3 linked regions of the Homo sapiens genome follow. The protein of the gene in region 2 interacts with the protein of the main gene of each other region in a biochemical or structural test. Each region holds a gene or a part of one and is shown on either strand. Other genes may lie near its edges.

What was found.
Region 1: the proteins of ANXA5 (region 2) and KDR form a complex in vitro, tested with the Homo sapiens proteins (one study listed by BioGRID).
Region 3: the proteins of ANXA5 (region 2) and COL10A1 form a complex in vitro, tested with the Homo sapiens proteins (one study listed by BioGRID).

What each region holds. Positions count from the first base shown.
Region 1 is NC_000004.12:55,108,596-55,115,703, reverse strand, and holds part of KDR (vascular endothelial growth factor receptor 2 precursor), read left to right. Parts: intron 1-292; coding exon 293-423; intron 424-661; coding exon 662-830; intron 831-1,438; coding exon 1,439-1,578; intron 1,579-2,222; coding exon 2,223-2,400; intron 2,401-4,935; coding exon 4,936-5,050; intron 5,051-5,137; coding exon 5,138-5,301; intron 5,302-7,108. UniProt on the Homo sapiens protein: Tyrosine-protein kinase that acts as a cell-surface receptor for VEGFA, VEGFC and VEGFD. Plays an essential role in the regulation of angiogenesis, vascular development, vascular permeability, and embryonic hematopoiesis.
Region 2 is NC_000004.12:121,693,929-121,701,810, reverse strand, and holds the start of ANXA5 (annexin A5), read left to right. Parts: upstream 1-4,830; 5' UTR 4,831-4,948; intron 4,949-5,186; 5' UTR 5,187-5,221; coding exon 5,222-5,230; intron 5,231-7,882. UniProt on the Homo sapiens protein: This protein is an anticoagulant protein that acts as an indirect inhibitor of the thromboplastin-specific complex, which is involved in the blood coagulation cascade.
Region 3 is NC_000006.12:116,123,037-116,130,992, forward strand, and holds the start of COL10A1 (collagen alpha-1(X) chain precursor), read right to left. Parts: upstream 3,097-7,956; 5' UTR 3,017-3,096; intron 2,472-3,016; 5' UTR 2,457-2,471; coding exon 2,303-2,456; intron 1-2,302.

The sequences.
Region 1 (7,108 bases), about 67 Mb from region 2:
GTCAATAAACCTTGTGAAAGGAGTCAATCTCAATTGGGAGTTTTTTTTCAAAATTTTTATACACACAGATATATACACATGCATGTGCATGCACAAACACACACACACACATACACACACACCCTCATGTAGCACAGATATCTATCAGCAGAATAATCTGTGGATGCCTTTGGTTGTGTGAGGTGTCCCTTCCAGTCATTCACTTGTCTGGTTAGAGTTTAGGAACCTGAAAAATGACCAACTTTTCTAGTAAATACTATTAACTCATTAATAAAACTAAATTTTCTTCTAGATTACAGATCTCCATTTATTGCTTCTGTTAGTGACCAACATGGAGTCGTGTACATTACTGAGAACAAAAACAAAACTGTGGTGATTCCATGTCTCGGGTCCATTTCAAATCTCAACGTGTCACTTTGTGCAGTAAGTTGCATCTCCTCCAATCGTCTCTTAAGTTTTTATAATTTTAAGCTAATATTAAGATGGGTAACCTGTTTATAATATTCACAATGAGTTTTAAGGATCCTTTAGGAAGGGTCAAATGCAATGAATAAAACTAATTAGTATTCTTAAAAATAAGATGAATTCTTCAGTGATCATTGTACATGGCTCTCATTTTTGGTACTGGATTAAATATTTGATATGTCTTTTTATTACCCAGAGATACCCAGAAAAGAGATTTGTTCCTGATGGTAACAGAATTTCCTGGGACAGCAAGAAGGGCTTTACTATTCCCAGCTACATGATCAGCTATGCTGGCATGGTCTTCTGTGAAGCAAAAATTAATGATGAAAGTTACCAGTCTATTATGTACATAGTTGTCGTTGTAGGTAAGAGGACATTTCCTTTCCATATCATTAATAACATATCCTTGTATTAAGATCTTGGAGATAACAACATAGAGTGAAGAAGGATATTGAAAAGTATAGGAACTCAGGATATGGTGTTGGGCAATTCATCTGCTCTTCTCTACCAAATAAACCCATGTGCAATTGAGGTTGTCTCTTTTCTTGCCAAGATTAAGGAAGAAAAAGAAAACTTTTTAAAAAAAGGATGAAAGCGAATGGTATTACTCGAGCACATTTTATGAAGAATTCAATGTTCAGAGCATTGCTTGCTATCAATTATTTCAATTATGACTATTTTATGGAAACTTCAGCAATTTGCTAAAGCTGGCCCTACTGGCCTAGGGCTACTGACCACTGAAAGTTTACTACTTTTCTGTCCACTGGGTTACAACATCTTTGAGATCTGTGAAGGTAGTGCTTTGTAAACCTCTGTTGGCCATTTTCCTGGGAGCTACCAAGTATTGGTGAGGCCTGCAGGGAAAAACAATGTGGCATGTTTTAAAGTTGCATTACTTTAAAAAATAAATCTGTGCAAAGTTATAGGCTTATTTGCTCTCTCATGTTCTGTTTTTTCAATTTACTTGCTCTAGGGTATAGGATTTATGATGTGGTTCTGAGTCCGTCTCATGGAATTGAACTATCTGTTGGAGAAAAGCTTGTCTTAAATTGTACAGCAAGAACTGAACTAAATGTGGGGATTGACTTCAACTGGGAATACCCTTCTTCGAAGGTAACGCTAATGATTCAAAGCCAGACCTCCAAATACTTAGATAATAAGCCCCAGTGAAGTTTGCTTGAGAGATAGGGGCCTCTTTGGCCAGATAAAATGTAAGAGCCTTAAACACACACACATACACACCCACTCACACACACATACACACACACACAATTTAAGGGAATTGCAGAACAGATAGCACCCACCAAAAGGTGAAATACCAGGAATTTTGTCCTATTCTGCAATAGCCAGGCTATGAATATTAGTTTTCTCTAGGTGATTACATCTTTCCACATTATGTCATTTCTCTGTTCTCCAAAGTTTTTGATCTACATTCCTTTTAAGGGAATTTCTCTTTAAGAGGTGGCATGAGATACACTGCTCCTTAAACAGTGGTCACATTTACTTGTGTTTCTGCAGTTTATATCCATCTCACTTTCACCACGTGAGGTTTTAAAAATCCTAATTCAGTTGGTTCCATTTATTTCTCCTGAAACAAAATATATTTGTTGTCTGCATGAGGTTAAAAGTTCTGGTGTCCCTGTTTTTAGCATTAAATAATGTTTACCAAAGCCCAGATTTAATTCTGTGTGTTACTAGAAGTTATTGGGTAATGTTATATGCTGTGCTTTGGAAGTTCAGTCAACTCTTTTTTTCAGCATCAGCATAAGAAACTTGTAAACCGAGACCTAAAAACCCAGTCTGGGAGTGAGATGAAGAAATTTTTGAGCACCTTAACTATAGATGGTGTAACCCGGAGTGACCAAGGATTGTACACCTGTGCAGCATCCAGTGGGCTGATGACCAAGAAGAACAGCACATTTGTCAGGGTCCATGGTAAGCTATGGTCTTGGAAATTATTCTGTGCCTTGACAAGTGAGATAATTTAAATAAATTTAGGTCACTTAGTGATTCCTATTTTGTTCATTCAGAAGATAGTTTCTAGTTTTTCTTGTTAGGGAGGCCACATGACCTAGAGGTCAAGAGCATAGCTTTGTAGTCAGGAACTTGGGTTCAAACCTCAACTTTAAAGATGAGATGTGCTGATATACAGTAAGAGTTCATTTAGTATTACTTATTATAGTTATTGCTGCTATTAGGATTGTTACTATGATAAATAGTATTAGCTAAGGTAGTTTTTAAATTTTCATTTTATTGCAAGGCTGAGAGGCCTACTTGAATAAGCATGAGCTTTGCAAACTGGGGAAACATTTAGCAATATACAGTTGACCTGTGAGCAACTCAGGGATTGGGGGAACTCAGGGGAGTTCCCCTAACTTTCCCTCCTCTGCAGTCAAAAATCCATGTATAGGCCGGGCGCGGTGGCTCACGCCTGTAATCCCAACACTTTGGGAGTCTGAGGTGGGTGGATCACCTGAGATCAGGAGTTCGAAACCAGCCTGGTCAACATGGTGGAACCCCATCTCTACTAAAAATCCAAAAAATTAGCCTGGTGTGGTGGTGGGAGCTTGTAATCCCAGCTACTCAGGAGGCTGAGGCAGGAGAATTGCTTGAACCCAGGAGGTGGAGGTTGCAGTGAGCCAAGATCGTGCCATTGTACCCCAGCCTGGGCAACAAGAGTGAAACTCCTTCTCAAAAAAAAAAAAAAAAAAAAAATCAAGGTATAACTTTTGACTTCCACAAAACATAACTAATGGCCTACTGTTGACTGGAAGCCCTACTGATAACATAAACAGTCAATTAACACATATTTTATATGTTATATGTATTATATACTGTATTCTTCCAATAAAGCTAGAGAAAAGAAAATGTTATTAAGAAAATTGTAAGGAAGAGAAAATATATTTACTATTCATTAAGTGTAAGTGGATCATCATAAAGGTCTTCATCCTTGTCTTCACGTTGAGTAGGCTGAGGAAAAGGGGGAAGAGGAGGGGGTGGTTTTGCTGTCTCAGGGGTGGCAGAGGTGGAAGAAAATCTGCTTATAAGTGGACTCATGTAGTTCAAGTTTGTGTTATTTAAGGGTCAACTGTAATTGAACTGGAATTAAATTGAACTGGCCTTGAGAAAATCACCTTAATTTTTTGTTTATTCTCTTTCATTTACATAAATGTCTGAGTTTACATGGTAATTTGTGTGGCATCCTACTTATAAGCCTTGGAAAGGATTTTGGAGTTTATATTATGAGAATGCATCAATACAGTGAAATTTTAAAAATACCTTAGATAATGCTATTTATTAGAGTTGTAATCATAAAAGTGGCAACAACTATAACAAGTATGATTTAGTGAGCACTTACTTTATTAGCTCATCTCATCTTTGAAGCTGAGATTGGAACTCAAGTTCCTGACTACAAAGCTATGCTCTTGACCTCTAGGTCACGTGGCATCCCTAGCAAGAACTTGAAAATTTCTTCTGAATGAACAAAATAGAAATCACTAAGTGTCCTAAATTTATTTAAATTATTTCACTTGCCAAGATGCACTTGTCAAAATACACAGAGAGAGATGTGCTCTGGCTTATGTTTTTATAGAATTACTTTTGTTTTCCAGAATACTTCAGGGAAATAGGGGCAGAAATAAGGAGGTCAGTTGGGAGGCTAATTGCAGTTATCCAAGTGAGAGTTGAGGGGTGGCTTAGACAAGGGTAGTTGAGGTGGAGGTAGTGAGAGGTGATCTGCTTCTGGATATATTTTGAAGGTAGAGTCAACAGGGTCCGCTGATCAATTCATTGGTTGTGGAGTATAAGAGAAAAAGAGTGGAAGATGACTCGAGCGTTAGCATGAGCAACTGAGTAAATGATGGTGTTATTTACTGAGATGGCAAAGATCGAGAAGGCAGTGAGATTTAGGGAAACAGTGTTAGATATGTTTATCTGGAGATGCCTGTTAAACATCCAAGTGGAGATATTTAACATATCAACCCGGAACCCAGAGGAGTCAGGGCAGAAGATAACACATTTAGGAGGTACGTGAATGATACTTTAAACCTGAGGCTAGAGGAAGGTGTAAATAAAGAGGAGGTCTGAGGACTGAGTCCTGGGGCCTCATGGTGGAAGAGGTGTGTGGAGGCTGTCATGGGAGCAGAGGAGAAGGAGCACCCAAGCATCCCTGGGGGACTTAGAGAAAGCTGCACAGAGGAGCAAGTGTTTGAGTTGAGACTTGAGCAATCACTAGGCTTGTGGGAGTGCACTAGCGGGGAGAGAAAAGCAAATGCAAACACAGGAGGTGTGGGAGAAACACGGGAGGTGTGGGAGAAGCTGAAAAGTGACCCACTGAAAGATAGTACAGGAAATCTTGGAACTGCAGCTACTCAGACCCTCAAGGTCTTTGACGTTTCACTTGAAATGAAAAACTAAATCAAATGACCATTTACAGTAAGTTGACCTTTTTTTTTTTTTATTTTCTTCCAGAAAAACCTTTTGTTGCTTTTGGAAGTGGCATGGAATCTCTGGTGGAAGCCACGGTGGGGGAGCGTGTCAGAATCCCTGCGAAGTACCTTGGTTACCCACCCCCAGAAATAAAATGGTAACTACTGGAAATAAATGCAAAGCATCATTTCGTGTGAGAGCAAATCCTTTGACTATACTAATTCCTGAGAATTTTTTTTCATAGGTATAAAAATGGAATACCCCTTGAGTCCAATCACACAATTAAAGCGGGGCATGTACTGACGATTATGGAAGTGAGTGAAAGAGACACAGGAAATTACACTGTCATCCTTACCAATCCCATTTCAAAGGAGAAGCAGAGCCATGTGGTCTCTCTGGTTGTGTATGGTGAGTCCATTCAATTTTCCTCTCTGCCCAAGATTTATTATGATACATTGTCTTCCAAATCAGCCAAACCACCGTTCCTCTGCCTCCTGCTGCTTCACTCATATCATGGCTGGGCCTGCGTACAAAAGTCATCTGGCGTGGTGAAGCTGAAGTGAAACGTAGGACCATGTGCTCTGGCCATGTTTGTTTAAGAGGCCGTGTAAATGAGCTTTGTGGTGGACAAATGCAAGATTAAAGTAGTGATACCCTCGATAGCTAAATGTTGTGAAATAAGAATGCCCACAGGGACAGTTGTCAAGCTAAGTTATACTACCATGTTCCCCTCTCATGGAATTGCCCACCTGGTACACAGATGTGTAAGACCCTTCTCCTTAGATTTTGTGCAAAGCTTCTAGTTTGATGTTGTAGTTGATGTATCAGAGATGTGCAGGCACGTTCCAACTCTGAAGGCTTTTGAAGTTGACACTGTTGGCTTGGTTGGGAGCTTTTCTTTTTTCCTTTTTGACAGGAGTTCAGGATCTGATTTTGAGTCTGTAAAGGAAAGATAGTAAGTTTTTGATGTAAAGATAATTTGAACTTTGTTTTCTGAAACTGAAAGGTACAAATAAGTGTTTGGAATGGAGTGGGGAGAAGGGTGCCATGGTCAAGTGAGTGTGAGAGGTGCTAAGGTGATGTGTAGATGTGTAACAGGTTTCTTTATTGCAGGACTTCGCAGAACCTTTTATATGCTAATGTATATTGGTATTCTCCAGGAGGAGAGACATAGAGTATTCAAGGTTTAACAAACCTATTTGACCAGAGCACCTTTTTTCCCCTGAGCAAATTCATTAATCTCTCACTCCAAACAGTTTGAGAAATGCTTCTCTGTTGTAATTCTTTGTTCCCCCTTCTGGTACGGCATATTAAAACTTCAGGATATTTTCCCATGACATTAAGGTGCTTCCCTACGTGTCCTGATACTCTTCTGTAGGCCGCTGAACTTGGCTTTATTATTTTTTTTCAGGGAATATTTTAAAGATAGGCTGGGTGCCGTGGTTTGCATCTGTAATCCCAGCACTTTGGGAGGCCGAGGCGGATGGATCACCTGAGGTCAGGAGTTCGAGACCAGCCTGGCCAACATGATGAAAACCCGTCTCTACTAAAAATATAAAAATTAGCCAGGCATGGTGGTGGGCACCTGTAATCCCAGCTACTTGGGAGGCTGAGGCAGGAGAATCACTTGAACCCAGGAGGTGGAGGTTGCAGATAGCCGAGATCGCACCATTGTACTCCAGCCTGGTGACAAGAGCAAAACTCCGTCTCAAAAAAAAAGTTAACAGGTTCCAAAAAGGTTGTTTAGAAGCAGCATAGGTGTAGGGGACTGGGGAGAGGAGAAACTGGAAAGTGTATAAGTAGGATGGGAGGAGGAAATGAACAGGAAATAAAAACAAAACACGGACAGCAAATAGCCCATTTCATCAGTTCATGAAGCCACTAAATATTTTATTCACTTTAGCAAATTCTCTGCTATATGAAATAAACATAAAAAAGAAGTCAAGTCTTCAAAGCATAATCTGAGGCTTTAGGTTGACAGTAATAAGGAAATAGTTTTGACTTTGGAGTCAAAAAAGAAAGAAAGGAAAAAGGGAGAGAAGAAAGAAGGAAGTGAGAGAAGGGAGAAGGAAGAAAGGGGAAGAGGGAAAGGGAGTGGAGAGGGAGGGAGGGAGGAAGAGGGAGAGAGAATGAAAAACTCAGATGATGGTGGCAGGAATGCATTCTCTAAAGATTTACACCTTCCTTTAACATGAGGTGGTTTACGTGTTTGGGT
Region 2 (7,882 bases):
GAGTTGAGGGCAGATAGGTGACTTGAATTAAATTCCAGGTGACGGTTTTACAGTTGTTGGCACCAGCAGATGGGGATCAGAGGGCCCACGTGTGGAGAGAAGGGTAGAGGGTGGGGGTCTAGGCTAGTTGTATGTTGATAGGGGCCATCGATGGTAGACTCTGGATGAGGCAGAATAGGCGGGAAGAAGGGGGAATGGCACCAGGAAGCATCAGGTTGGCCCCCAAGAGTTGGACCTGCCGTCTCTGAGAGACTGGCTGGCAATAGGTCCTGCTGCAGTGGAGCAGTGGGTCCAGAGGAGGTTATTTTTGCTTTTAATATGAAGGTGGGTCCTTAATCATCAGAACAGGAACTGAGAATGATGGTTAGTGTTTCTGAAAGAAAAAAGAGCCATGGGGGAATGGAATCAACCCTTTTTCACAATTTGTTAGGCAGTTTCACAAATTAACTTATTTGAAACTAGCCTCCACTCTAGATAAGGAAGCCAAGGATCAGAGAAATCACATAATTTGTCCAAGTCACATCCCTGGTATGCAGGCAGAGTAGGGATTTGAACTCAACTGTCTCTGTCTTCAGAGAGTGTGCTTTTTCCAGATCTTGCCTGGAAGACATGATGTTCCTCCTTTCCCTTTGTATCTAGCCCCTACTTTACTCCTCAGCCACTCTCTCGTTTCTTCTGCTTCATGCAATTCATTCTCCTGCCATCTTTTCTTCTTCTTTAACTTGCCATAATTTGCAATAGATATATTTATTAAACAAAATCAATTTTTAAAGTAGACTGGTTGAAAATGTTATAATTTTCTAAAAAACAAGATTCCAATTCCTCTAAAACTAAAGAAGAGTTGTTTTGTACTTATTTATAAAAAGCCTGTAACTCATTTTCTTTTCTTTATGTGTCATTATAATCAAGGGAAACAGTAGGGCCATGAATATATGATCAAAATATTAGAGTTGAGAGATGTAGAAACTGAAACACAAAGAAGCTCAGCGACTTATTTAGAATAAATTGGCTAGTTCCTGAATGATCCAAATAATTGAGAGAAATAGGGAAAATCCTGAGTTAACAAATAAATACAGTTTCAAAAGTGTGTTTGTAAATTAGTTCTCTGGCATTTGGTATATTTCTCTAATAAAAAGAAAATTGATGTGACCTGAGTGTCTCATAGAAAACAGCTGAAACTCATTATTTATATCTAAGAATAGTATAAAAAACTCCCCACAATTATTATGTAGTACTTATAATGAACACAACACAAAGACAATACACTGAGAAAGAAGGACTTTAATTTTTAAATGTGTAAGAAGAGAAAATTTAATTAGAAAGATGAAAGACTTAACTGGCGAATCCGGCAGAGATTCTAAAGATGACATTTGGACACTGATAAAGGCCATTGGGGGATGAATGACAGACACTTGTTTTTAAGAGTGTGAAAGCTGTCCTTATCAAAATGGAGTCAATTGTGTTAAAAAACGAGACAAATCCCTGACAAATGGCTGGGGAAGGCCATGAAGGGAGGGTTCTAATACATAAATGCCTGATAACAAGAACTATTGAAAAATACTGCAAAAACCACAACTTTGGACAAAGGCCATTGCAACCACACACACACACACACACACACACACACACACACACAGAGAGAGAGAGAGAGAGAGAGAGAGAGAGAGAGAAAATGAGAACTTCTGCGGAGACATCTGCCCAGCAACTGCCTGTACAACATTAGACTGGTGCCACTCTAGTTATTGATTACTGTAGCCAAGGATAATTATCTCAAAAACAATGATGTAATCTTCCTTCTTCCTTGAAAAACCTTTGCCTTCCTTTACCTCCCTGAATACGCAAAATAGTTTAATATGGCACACATATTCCCATTGCAATGCCCATTCCCAAATAAACATCATTTTCTTTTAGAAAGTCTCCCTCTCTGTTTGTTATTAGGCTGACAAGAGGTAGTGAAAGAGATTTCCTGAGTGCCTATCATTTATATCACTCAGTAGTTAAGAACATCAGTTGTTCAAAATCCATCAATTAAATACACAATTCAAAGCAGAATCTTTATGTGGCAATCTCTCTTTATTCTAAATAAGTCGCTGAGCTTCTTTGTGTTTTAGTTTCTACATCTCTCAACTCTAATATTGTACCTTCCACTCCAGCCATTTTAGACAGTTCAAATCACACAGACACAAAGAGATACTTTCCTTCTCTTGGTTTTGCAGTTCACTTAACCAGACCACCCTTTCTCCCCTTCATAGTTTGATAAAATATCCTCTCTCAAAAGCCTAATCCAAATGCTATGTCAACCATCTGACAAAATATTAGCTCCTTCCTCTGAAACTAATTGCATTTTGATTGCATTCTAGGCATTTCTTTCCTGATTTATAGTCTCTCATTGTAGTGTTCATATACATGCTTTATCTATAATATTAAGGTGCAAACTCTTAGGTATGGCCTTTCCACAGGTGCTCAGTGTATAGTTGTCAAATACAATTAAATTGTATCAATTTAGGTTTCTGTTCAAGGCTTCTCAGAAATGGCTTCATATCACCTTTGCAAAATAAGTGTTCCCTTCATTTCCATTCCCTAGCCTTTATTTTCTTTATACCACGCATCACACAGGACATATTAGATACTTGTTTATTGTTTGTTTCCTCCACCAGAATGTATGACCTATGAGGGCAAGGCCTTTGTTTCACTTGCCGTGTTTACCCCAGCACCTAGATCTGTGCCTGGTCCAGAGTAGGAGTTGAATAAACTGATATTACTGGAAGTGAAAGAAATGCTACCTGGAGTATTTCAAGACTCTGAGTCCAATAACTCATCGATTTTGTCAGTATTTAGCTGCAGGACATAGAGCAAGTCACTAACCCATGATGAGTCTCATGTCCCTGTAAAATCAATGATTGTTAAATACAGGATCTCTGAGGTCCTGTTTAACTCCATTAATGTGAGAGTAGAAAGTGAGAGAAGCAAACTGAGTTCAAGTGGATATGGGTGAGAAAAAAGAATGCTCTAGGCAAGACTACAGGTCCTGCTTTTGGTGCAGGGCAGAGAGAAAGTAGAAAAGCTGGAGCAACGGAGACAGATGCTCAGAAAAGGGCTGCCTTCAGATATATTAATACCTGTAAAGAAAACCCGGGGGAGGTGCTGACTTGGGGAGAGCCTGAGGCTGAGTAGACAGCTGGGCTGGTGGAGAGGAGGCTCCCAGAGGAAAGGCAACCCGCCAGTGGGGTGGGGGTGATGGGGTTGGCAAGCTCCACAAATTTTGCAATTTTGCCTCCTTTCCCAGAGAACAACCACTCTGTTGTGACTTTGTCAGGGCTGGAATAGGCATGTGGTTCACACGTGAAAGCGAATGAGAAGTTCTATACAAAGAACCACATTTGCTGTCCATTTAATTTATTCTTCCTCATTCTCAAAGAAGACTAGATCCTCATCTCTTACCCTTAACCTCCACGTTGAGAAGCACTTTGCCCTTCCCATTCTAGCATATGTCTAGAACACTGCATCTAGTGTCGCAAACTTGTCCTCTTGCCCCCTCTGCCCTGGCACCTTCCCTCCCCACACCAGTAAGTCTGAGAAGGTCCCTGTGTCTTCTACTTTTCCTTTTCCAGCATATGGAGACAAAAGTGATTATATCCCGGATGCTAATCCGCCATGTTGACCTTTAATAACCCCAGTCCCATGAATACCTCCTGATTCCTAGGATTTTTTTTTTAAACTGTCCTTAGCATAAGAACATGTCAACCTTGATGCTATTGCCCACATTGTAGGCTATGAAGCATACGGCATTCTCACCTGTTCCGGAGGGCTGCCTTTAATTGTCTTGCACAGAGCAGTATACTCTTTCCTTACGGTATATAAGGCCAGGGTCTGGGGAGTAACAGTGCAGAAATTTATCTGCTTGCCGCCGCCCAAGGCCACGCTTCTGTCTACCACATCCTCCAATAGCACCCCTATTACCTACAGACTGGATTTGTCTGTCTCGTTCTTTGGTTTCTTGACTCCTTCGCGTTTGGGGGCTGCTTTGCATATAAAGCCCTTTCACAGAACACAGCACCATGCTAGTACAATACGCTGTAGATTCTCCCTCCCTCCCCCTCTCTCTCATATACTCATATATTTTATGTTGAACCAATATGAGGCATTGCTCAAATTTAAGTCATATTAAAGTTCTAGGCTAGTTTTGAAAACAGAAACTGATTGGAAGCAGAGGTTTTCAAATAGCCCACATACGCTACTAGAAGGCTGTACATTTAAGAGAGGGCCATCTAGGAAGCAATAATAGGCATTAAAACAACAACAAAACAACAAAACAAAACAGAAACAAAAACAACTTGGGAAACGGCCCTCCTTTCACGTTTTTTCTATCCCATCGACAAAGGCGCGCTGTCCTTAGCTGCGATGATTTTGTCTCGCCTCCAAAAAGACGCCCACGCACTATGTTGAGCACCCAAGTGAGGCTACGGTTCCTGCGGTCACAGAGGGCAGGGAGGCTCAAGCACCTCCAAAACCCCGAGCCCTGGACAGCTCCCCAGGCCCTTCCCGCGGCGCGAGGACAAGAGGTCTCCGGGGCCCTCGGGGGAGCGGCGCCTCCTCCTGGTTCCAGCAGCTCTGCGGCCGCTCCCCACCCAGGCCCGCGAGACCAGCGGGACAGTCCGCGCCGCGGGAGACCAACTGGGACGAGCCGCGACCCACGCAGGCGCGCTGAGGCCGGGGCAGGGGCGGGCCCGGCTGGCGCGGCCGGCCTGCGGTTGGGGCCCTGGCGGGGGTGGGACGGGCCAAGCCGGGCAGGGCCGGGGTGGGGCCGCTGGCGTTTCCGTTGCTTGGATCAGTCTAGGTGCAGCTGCCGGATCCTTCAGCGTCTGCATCTCGGCGTCGCCCCGCGTACCGTCGCCCGGCTCTCCGCCGCTCTCCCGGGGTTTCGGGGCACTTGGGTCCCACAGTCTGGGTGAGTGGTCGCAGCCCGGGGAGGGGGCTCCTTCTGGAGAGGAGAGCGTGGTCGCGGGGCACTGGATTCGCGCGGACGCTCGGCCGAGAGCTGTCCCGGTAGCTGCGAGAGGGCGGGTCGGCCCCGTGGCGGGGCCCTCCGGGCTGTCTGAGCGCCGCCGGGTCCCCGCGGACCTGCGCTTGGGGAGGGCACGAGTTGCAAATGGCGCGCTAAGCCCGAGGTTTCTTCTCTTTTGCAGTCCTGCTTCACCTTCCCCTGACCTGAGTAGTCGCCATGGCACAGGTAAGGCCGTGCGCCCCCCACTGCGCTGGATTTACCCACAACTTTGTATGCTGCGACGAGGGACTTTTAGGATTTGTCTGAGAGCCAAAAAGTTTAGGAGGAAAGGGAACCTGCTTTGGGGACATCGCTTCCACTTTTCTTGTTCCCCCTTTGCTTCCCTGCCCCCGTTTCTGTGTCCCGGTTCTTCCCGCTGAGCGCCCTCCGGAACCAGCACCGACGCCGCCAAGCTGCCTTCGCGCGCAACAGCTGGTGACGTGGCCGGATTTGTGTGCGCTCCCTTTTCATGAGTGAATGTGTAAAAGTGGGCCTTCCCCAAAATCCAGAGAGTAGCTCAAATTAGAACCGGAGCAAGAACAGCTCATCGTGGTCATGTGAGGCGAACGCATTCCCCCCCCACCCCGCCCCCCGACTTCCTTTATTTTTTTTCCGCAAAGTTTTCTGTATTTTAATACTGTGATTGAGCATTGGCTTTTTCCAGTTGCTCAGCCCAGTTTTACTAAAACTGTAGGACGTAGGCTCTGATTTTTTTTTTAATCCAAAAGATTAAACACAAGCGCTGTTTTTCTTAAGCAATGAACTCGTGGAACGAGTTCTCAATTGAATTTGCCTTGGGACTGTTTCAGAAATTGATAATCTACTACAGGCTTTCTTTACTGTTTTTTTTTTTTCCTTTTTTTTTGAGACGGAGTCTCACTCTGTCGCCCAGGCTGGAGTCCAGTGACGTAGTGATCTCGCTCACTACAACCTCTGCCTCCCGGGTTCAAGCAATTCTCGTGTCTCAGCTTTCCAAGTAGCTGGGATTACAGGCGCCCCACCATGCCCAGCTAATTTTGTATTTTTAGTAGAGGCGGGGTTTCACCATGTTGGCCAGGCTGGTCTCAAACTCCTTGCCTCAAGTGATCCTCCCGCCTCGGCCTCAGGACTGTAATCCCACTGCGCCTGGTTTCTTTACTGTTATTAATGTTTATCAAAAATGTAGGAAAGAGAAGATAGTTTAAGGTCTTTAAATATTGACCATGTTATACAGTCTTTTGTGAATAAGATACCAGGGCTTAAAAACTCTAAAACTGATTTCACAGATCTTGTCAATCTAACCGGCTTGTCAGAGTCCAGATAGTTTTTTTTAAACAAGTGTTTTAACTGCTAAAACAATGCTGTCTCTTATTTATAGTTCACTTTTTATCAGATTGACTTATCAAAATTGAAAAAGGTTTCTTGGTCCTTTCCAAGTGAAAATGGGAGGATTAAGATTAGTTGATTACTTTATGAAACTTACACAGTGATCCCATTCTTACCTCCTCTTTTGCACTTAAATGTTACAGTAAACCAATTCTCATATTACTTCAAGTGGAAAGTTTGGTTTAAGTTCTTCTCCATAGAAAGGATACTTTTATGTGGAATTAACTTTCCTGAGTAATATTTTTCCTATCTTGATATGCTGGTGTGGTGATGTACATGAAGATTTAACAAGCATCGAATAATAATTCCCTCTATCTTTGCTCATTTAGCAGTTTCTTGAATCTCTTGTAAGTTCCCCAGTGATGTCTGAGGGTCCATCAATTCCTTTTCATTATGTAGACTGTTTACCCAAATAGTATAAGCGAACATATTTTCCAGTTGTGGACATTAATTTTAATAATTTCAAAGAATGATTAGTATCATAAAGGCCATGTGTATAGAAAACCTAGGAGAATGGTGGTTTGCATATAAAATTATGTACCTGAGCCCTATGACAATATAACACCAAGACTGTTTTCTATCAAAACTACAGTTTTTACTAATCATAAAAGTTACAAGTAATGTTTTAAAAAAGATACAGAGTGTTAAATTTTGTTCTAGTTTTGTTACTATTTTTGGAAATCATGAAAGTAAAACATTTTGTTAAAATATTTAGTATTGGCCAGGCATGGTGGCTCATGCCTGTAATCCTAGCACTTTGGGAGGCTGAGGCACGTGGATCACGAGGTCAGGAGTTCGAGACCAGCCTAACCAACATGGTGAGACCTCGTCTCTTCTAAAAATACAAAAATTAGCTGGGCATGGTGGTGCACAACTGTAATCCCAGCTACTCGGGAGGCTGAGGCAGGAGAATCACTTGAACCCGGGAGGCGGAGGTTGCAGTGAGCTGAGATCGCGCTGCTGCACTCCAGCCTGGGCAACAGTGAGACTACGTCTCAAAAAAAAAGTTTAGTATTAAAGTTGGGTGCGGCGTCTGAGCAGTAAGAATGTCATGAAGGCAAAACTAGGCTACGTAATTGTTCATTAGAAGCTTCATGAACATCAGAATTTTTTTGTTTATTTTTTATTTATTTTTTATTATATATATATTTTTATTATACTTTAAGTTCTAGGGTATGTGTGCACAACATGCAGGTTTGTTACATATGTATACATGGTGCCATGTTGGTGTGCTGCACCCATTAACTCAATATTTACATTAGCTGTATCTCCTAATGCTATCCCTCCCCCCTCCCCCCCGCCCACAATAGGCCCCGGTGTGGGTGTGTGATGTTCCCCTTTCTGTGTCCAAGTGTTCTCATGAACATCAGAATTATCTCTATGGTATATGTTTAAGTTACAAGGTTTGATCAGAAATATTTTCGGTTGGTTTAAAATTATTATAATAATTTAAAAAAGCCCTGTGCCGAGCAA
Region 3 (7,956 bases), on a different chromosome or scaffold from region 2:
AATAAATAAGGAATTTTTTAATGGGTTGGAGGAATAAAATAGTGGATTTTTTAAAATGCCAACTATGTTAGATTGAGCTTTGCTTTAGAATCTGATTATAAGGGTCATGTTCACACTAAAAATAATTGTCTTAGTCTGATTGGAAATCTGTTTTACTATTAAAAAGGAGAAACAAGTCAATGGAAATGAGTGCATTGGGCGTCATCCGAGACTGGAACTCCAGTGACAGGGCGAACTTTGTCACTTGGAATGTTGTCCTAATGGGTCTCAACTTCTCAGTGCGAGAAAGAATTTGGCTTCTATTGAATGCTTGGGGGACAGCCCCTGTTTGTAGGTTGTCATCTGAAAAAATTTTCTTCATTCAAGATTAGGGTGGCACAATCCTCAAGGTAAAACGACTACTTCCTTCTATTAAGTTTTTTAAATGCCACAAACTGAAATCGTGATTGGTTGTGTCAGAATGTGGCACGTGCATCTGCCCACCAGCTGTGGAATCCTCTGCAGCATAATTTAGTATGTTTTGACAGAACTCTTTTTTAACCTGTGTTGGATGGATATGCCTAGGAATTATGTAATAACTCTTTGAATTCCTGTTTCAACTTAATGTCTTACTTGTATAGACTGTGGGCTTTTGTGTTTGTTATGGTGCATTAATGTCTGCCAATGGATGATAGTGTAGTTGAGTGTCTATCTAAAAAGAGACTAAGGTGGATTTAGTAGTTTAAATACAGCTTCTGAACTTTTCATTTGTTAAGATATTTTCATTTGTTCTGCAAAAGTAGCCAAGATAATGGTGTATATTAAGAGAAGATCAAAGTATTTTTAACCTTCTAAAATAGTGCATTTTCTTTTTAATTCAAGACTTTGTTATGCTCTTATTAAGGTGTTAAAAAGTCTGATTTTTGTGATCATGGAAACTATTGAATCCAGTGCTGTTTGTCATAGCATTTCAAATTGTGTTTGTTGCTTCAAGTAAAGCGGAAGGTTGCTTTGTCTTTTATTTTTTTCTTTACTAGCCTTTAAATTTTAAAATTTTTATTTATATTTTGAGACATTCAAAAGTATCTGTTGTATACCTGTGCATTTATTTTCAAATATTAAGTTTCCTTTTGTGAAATATTTTAAATTCCATCTTTCTTCTTAAAAAGACAATTCTATAAGTTTCATTGCTCAAAATGGTTGTTCCCAAAAGCATAATATTTAAACTTTATAACAAATATCCTTAGCTTTATTTACAGTATAAAATATATAATTAAAAAATTATGGAAAGGGAGTTTGAAGCCTACAGTCAGTTTATATTATTCTGTAGATATTTTATAGGCGGTCGTGTCAGTTGCTGTTAAATAAAATTAGTGAATATGAGGCCTAGAAGTTGCCCTCCTTTGAGAACCTTAGTGCTTTACATATATTATCTCAGTAATCTTCAAAGAGTAACCAAGAAAACTGGACAGGTAAGCAACAGATTCAAGAAGAAAGTTAACTTATTGAAGGCTATATTAGTAGCTAAAAGTAGTAGAAATAAAACTAGGAGTAACAGAAGTAGTAGTAGAAGTAATAGCAACACTTAAAGCACTTTACAGGTATTAATTCATTTAAACTTCGCAGCAGCCCTTGAGATAGCTGCTCCTTATTTTACAAATGAGGAAACTAAGGCATGGGAGGACAAGTAACTTACCTCAGGTCACACAGCTTATGCATTACAGTTAAGTCTCTGCATTTTACCGCTAAACTATATTCAAAATGTATAAGTAATTATGAGAATTGCAGTTTCATTTGCCTGCTTGGCAATTCTCATAATTACATTTGTTCATTGTTGGGGGGGAGGCCATCAGATTTTTTTGATAAGACTCGGTTTTATATCTGTTTGTGGGCTAGTTGAATTAGTTTTAAAAGTAAATGTTTAATATTTAGCTAAATAAACCAGCTACCTTCTTTATACAATTGGCAGTTATTTTTAGCTTAAAATTTTTAAACTTGATTAGTTTTGATTAGATCAAGATTTCTGGATTACATGCAGTTATTTGTGCAAAAGCAGCATCTGAGAAAAAAATTTGTACACACAAAAGTTCTGATTTTTTGCAGGTATATCTTTCAACTATATTTTCAAGTATATCCTTTCTACTACACTTATTGGATATTCTTGTTCTACTTTTTTCACAGATCACTTTGTTGTAATAATTTGGGCTAATTCAGAAGTTGGAAAGTAACACCAAAGTTAAATGCATTTTGTTAAAGAGATTATTAAGATTATAGAAAGCAACAAGCAACTTGTTAATAGAACAAAATATACAATTCAATTTACCTTTACTCTTTATGGTGTAGGGAATGAAGAACTGTGTCTTGGTGTTGGGTAGTGGGCCTTTTATGCCTGTGGGCATTTGGTATCGTTCAGCGTAAAACACTCCATGAACCAAGTTCAAGGATACTAGCAGCAAAAAGGGTATTTGTGGCAGCATATTCTCAGATGGATTCTGAAAAACAGAAAAGAATAACTTTATACAGCATTGTTATTAACCTATTTTTTTATTCTCATGTTTCACAGATGAGTTCTTTATACAGTTATCTACTTTTTTAACCTATCCTATATATTTTTAATATGTGCCATAAATAAATGAGAGATCATTTTTTAGTTATGTGAATATATGTCTTAGTTATTTTTGGAAGCTATACTCAGGTAATCAAGTGAAAATAAAATGATTTACCTAAAGGAAAAGAAACAGAAATTAGGATTGGATGTCTGTATTAAATAATCTAGGATCTTTGACATAGCCTGAAATATCTAATAGTTTCAAAATACACTGAAATTCGGATTAGGGCAAATTTTTACAATATGGTTTTATTGGGACTATCATCCACAGACTGATGCAAAAAGAACTTTTGGAGTGCATTTTAGTAGAAACCCATTTTTTAAATCACTTTAATACTTCTAATACTTGAGAAAACTCAAGTATTTAAATCTTTAAAGTTTCTTTCCAAGCAAGTTAACATGGAAGTCCACCAGTAAGCGTACGCTTACCTGCGTGCTGGGAGTTCCTGGAGATGGTGCCTTGGCAGCTTTCTGAAGCTTCCTCTGCCCAGATGAGCAGTGCAGAAGGTGCCTCTCAAGAGCTGTTCAGTGGTATTTATACTGTTTTTCCCTTACTACATGAGGTTACCCTGAGCTTAAGCTCCTCCCCTCAAAGTTGGTAAGCACTAATTATGGTGGAAAGTTCTATTGGGTAGGCACACAAGATCGGGCTGGGCTCTCCTTTTCCTTGTTTTCTTATTTAAAAATAAACCCATTGTCTTAAATATATATTAATAGTTTTAACCAAGGACCGTCTTTGTCTGTGATTCTATTTTATTAATTAATACTCTAGTGTTCAGGCTGGTTCACGGTGGAATGATGATACCCCCTTTTTATTTTTGAAAAGCACATTCTTATGTTAATTGGTTGATATTATATAATATGTGGTAGTACATAAAAGCGGATAAAATTCCTTGAAGGGGGTACTGGATTTAGACCATCATCTAAATTATTGAGTTATTACATAAAGTTATCAATGTGTCTATTAATATTCATAAATTTTTGTGAAAATAGCTGACCCCAATTCTTAATTACTTTTAGGCTTTTAGGATTTAGATCCCTTATTCACAACACTACGCTATATTCAGTAAATGACTTCAGATTTTCTTGCTTAAATTTGGGTTTACTTTAGAGTTGCAGTAGAGTTTGCAAAAACCCCTTAATTTGATAATCTCATATTATGTTAATTTACATAAGATTGCTGTGTTTATTTCAGGAGAAAAAAATTTTCAAACTTTGCTTTCAGCTTAAAAAAAATATTATTGGCTTAACTTGCAGTTAGGAATCATCCCAATTAGAAACACTTTCCCTCAAAGGTGGAAGTAAACACTATTGTTGTCAATTTTGGTAGTTAGACTCTGTTTAACAATATTAGGAAGCCTTTAAAATCAGTTTTTAGGATCCTAAAAAATCTAATAAAGGTGGGAAGTTGAGAGTCCAAATTTTTCATCTTATTTAATTTCATCGTTTTGAATCAAAATCAAATTGACTATGCAGGTGAACTGGTTGAGGAGGACAATTCCATACACAGGCATAGACACATCATTTTTCTACCTCCACAGAATTAAAGTAGTATGGATTCAGGACTAATCAATAATTGAAATAATTGAAAGTTTGACCAGTGAATGAACTAAAGATTTGTCCTTTTTCTTTTCCCTTTCTCTCCCCTTCAAGCAATTTTCTGTATTTTAAACAAAGCCTTGTATAGCCCTTTATGGAAATGTAAATGGATAAGGCATCTCATTGCCTCTCTCCTCTTGCTTGTAAGCATTTTGTTGATTGCCATATTAAAAAAATTTACATTGTTGTATATATCTCTGTATAATACTCATAGATACATATAAAATATGTTTCTTATAGCAGTTTAGAATAACAAAATAGGAAAGTTTATAATTCATCATTTGGAAATTATATATGGAATAGCTTTTGTAATTATAATATGTACTCTGCTACATCTGTAGGAGACTACAAAAGATAAGTGAGAGAAAACACCTGCCTTTTGGCTTATGGCCCATTTGGACACAATTTTGAAAAAGTAGGTGAGGTAACTTTATGGATGCTTTTGAATGCTAGGTTGAATTTGTTTTGAAAGGAATTATTAAAATATATATTTTAATATTTTGTGTGTATATATGGTGATACACATGCACACACATACTGCTATTTGCTTATAATTGAGACTGATACCCTGTTAGTTATCACTCGTGAACGTTCAGAAGACTAATTCTCAGCTCTTAATACATAGTGCTATGCCCCTGTGTATACCATTTGTTCATCTGTGGCTATTGCAACAATTTTCAGAGCCTTTCACTTTAACCTCTCTGGGTGTCTGTTTTTTATCAACACAATGAAAAGTTTGGACTAGGTGGTTTCTAAGCTCCTCCCAGTTTTAAAATTAGATTATTCCTGTGCTTGAGGTATTCTGCTGTTCTCCATGGTCAGATGGTAGACTTGGCTCCAGTTAGTACTTATTAGAGACACAAAAAAATCCATACCAGGAGGTTGTATGTCTTCTTTTAGGGATATGTAAATATATGTGGGTATTTGTCATTCTATACTCCCCTTTAGTTTTGGAAAATGTGGTGTCCTTATTGAATAAGCCTTGGACATTCAACCCTTTTTGCAAATAGTGTACTTATTTCAGCACAAGGAATCTGACTGCTGTTTGCTTTGTTAGTCACATAAGAAGCACTGTCTTGTCCAAAACAGATTGTAGAATCAGAATATTTTCTAGCCACACCCCACCCAATTGTGTATTTAAAACTATTTTTACTCTGGGTGTTTACTTGTAGCTGTTTGAAGTGACTAGTCTGTGGCTTTATGAAGGAAACCCATTCCACTCAAAACAGAGAGCCATACTCTTTAAACTCTATAACCTGAGTAATTTTTTTAAATATCAAATATGAATAATGATTTTTTTCACATCTGGCAGTTAGCTACTATTAAGCTTGCCTATTCATTTGTACATCTGTGGATCGTTAATTAATTCACCTTATGTTTCTTAAGTGCTTCTTAAGTGTTAGACATTAAGATAAATACTGGGTGAATAATATATATTCTATACCCTTAAAGTGTTTACACAGTGGTTCTCAGCCTCTTTTCCCCACTCCTGCTGTCCTGAGGGAAATGCACAATTCCTTCAGCCTTTGAGGTTCATTAAAATAGTGGTGGTTCAAAGACTATATTTTCATGAAGCTCCTCAGGTGATCATGATGGCCTCCTAAGTTAGAATGTATAGTCTGATATCAGTGTTCTATTACCACCTTGTTAATATTAGTTACATTGGTTTTTGTTATTTGTGTTCATATGCTTTTTAAACTTTTTTACAGAAAACTTGTCTTTTATAGTAGTGAGAATAGTTACAATAAATGCCTATATGCCTGTCATTCAAACTGATCTCAACTCGCTGTCACTCAATTCTCTTTTCATTCACCACTCCTTCAAATTTTGAAGTAAATCCCATATATTGTACCAATTTACCTGTGAATATTTTGGTATATTTTTCCAGAAGAGAAGGAGTCTTTTTTCTTTAAAACAATGTCATCATCGTATTAAAAAATCAGCCATTTCTTAATATCATCAAATCCTGTAGTTCACATACATATATAGACATGTATATACACAAACATATGTATACACATGTCTATATTATATAGAAACACATACATACATATCCACATATATTTTTTATTGATTGATAAATTGTTTGTTGAAATTAGGTTGATTCATATATCCCTGTTGTCATGGTTTGAATGTATCCCCCAAAGTTCATGTGTTGGAAACTTAATTCTTAATGTAACAGTTTTGGCAAGTGGGATCTTTAAGAGGTGATGAGGTTGCGAGGACTATGCCCTCATAAATGGATTAATGTTATTGTGGGAATGGGTTAGTTGTTGTGAGAGTGGGCTTTATATAGAAGCAAGCTCGGCCCCCTTTTGCTCTCTTGCACACTTTTGCCCTCTTTTGCCCTTCTGCCTTCTGCCATGCGATACTACAGCATGAACGCTCTCTCCAGATACCGGTGCCATCCTCTTGGACTTCCTAGCCTTCAGAACTGTGTGCCGAATAAAGCTCTGTTCATCATAAATTACCCCGTCTGTGGCATTCTGTTATAGTAGTGTAAAATGGACTAAACCTGTTACTCTAGGTGTCTTGTGTCACTTTTTACTCCCTTGCAGTTTATTTGTTGAAAAGCCGTGTCATCTGTCTCATGCAATTTCCTGTGATCTAGAATTTGTTGTCACTTAACTTGCTACTGTGGAGATTGGTAGTTAAATCTAGAGTTTTCATCTGATTTCAGGTTTGAGATACACACATTCACTCACACACAGATACAGCACACACAAATACATTTTTTGGCAAGAACCCTTTACAGAGAGTGGTATGATATACTTCTGTTAGGAAGCCCTTAATTGCTGGTGTCTCTTTGGTGTTACTGGACATTGGTAATTGCCTACAGTCAATATTTTATTATAGGTTATAAAATGATGATATTCTGATTTTATCATTTGTATTTTATTTATTAGCTAGGATATTCTCTATAAAGAAAAACACCCCTTCATCAACTATTTGATTACCCTGAAGTACAGTGTGTATAGAAAAAGCAGGAGAAATGCCTTTACCAGCATTTAGAACAATAAGCTGCTCCCAGCATCCTCCACAGGTGTAGTGAGGAAAGTGTGTGTGTTTATCATTATAAACATTCAGTTTATAATGTATTGTATGTGTTTCAGTCCGTGGCACTTATTAATCTTACTATTGTTCAGAATTTTTTCCCCATTTTTGGCCAGTGAGAGCCTCTCCTCTACCAGTTGGCTCCTGAGTTCTTTTGACCATGATCCCAGTAGTTTTTTTTATAGCTTCTTTCCTTCTAATGTTTTGTACCTTTCGTGGCCCAGATCTACAATAAGACATTTCTCCACAGACTCTTAGTTTCTTTTGTGGGAAATAGAAACCACAGTCTGAGTGCCTGGATGTCTGGGTCCTAGGGATGCACATTGCTTCTGGGTTGGTCATTCTATCTAGTGAACAGCTAAGAAACGTATGCACAGGGTGTTCATTAAATATAAGATATATGATAACATTTTACTGATGTAGCCAATGCACATTCAGGACCACAGGTGTTTACTTAATGACCTCAATCTTGTATCTGTAGCTGCTTGGTCCCATGCTAAAAACCCTAGTACTCATGCCAGTAATATAGTTATTCATTTGTTTATTCCATGATACTCACAATTTCTCAAAATAAAAATACCAATATTCGTACCAGAATATTGAAAAAAAATATAAGCCGTTTGATTATGTTTGCAATTCTTTTGGTATTTTCACTAGAGCTGCATTACTGTGCTGTAAAGTCACATGACACAGTTGATTCAATGTGGTAATACTGC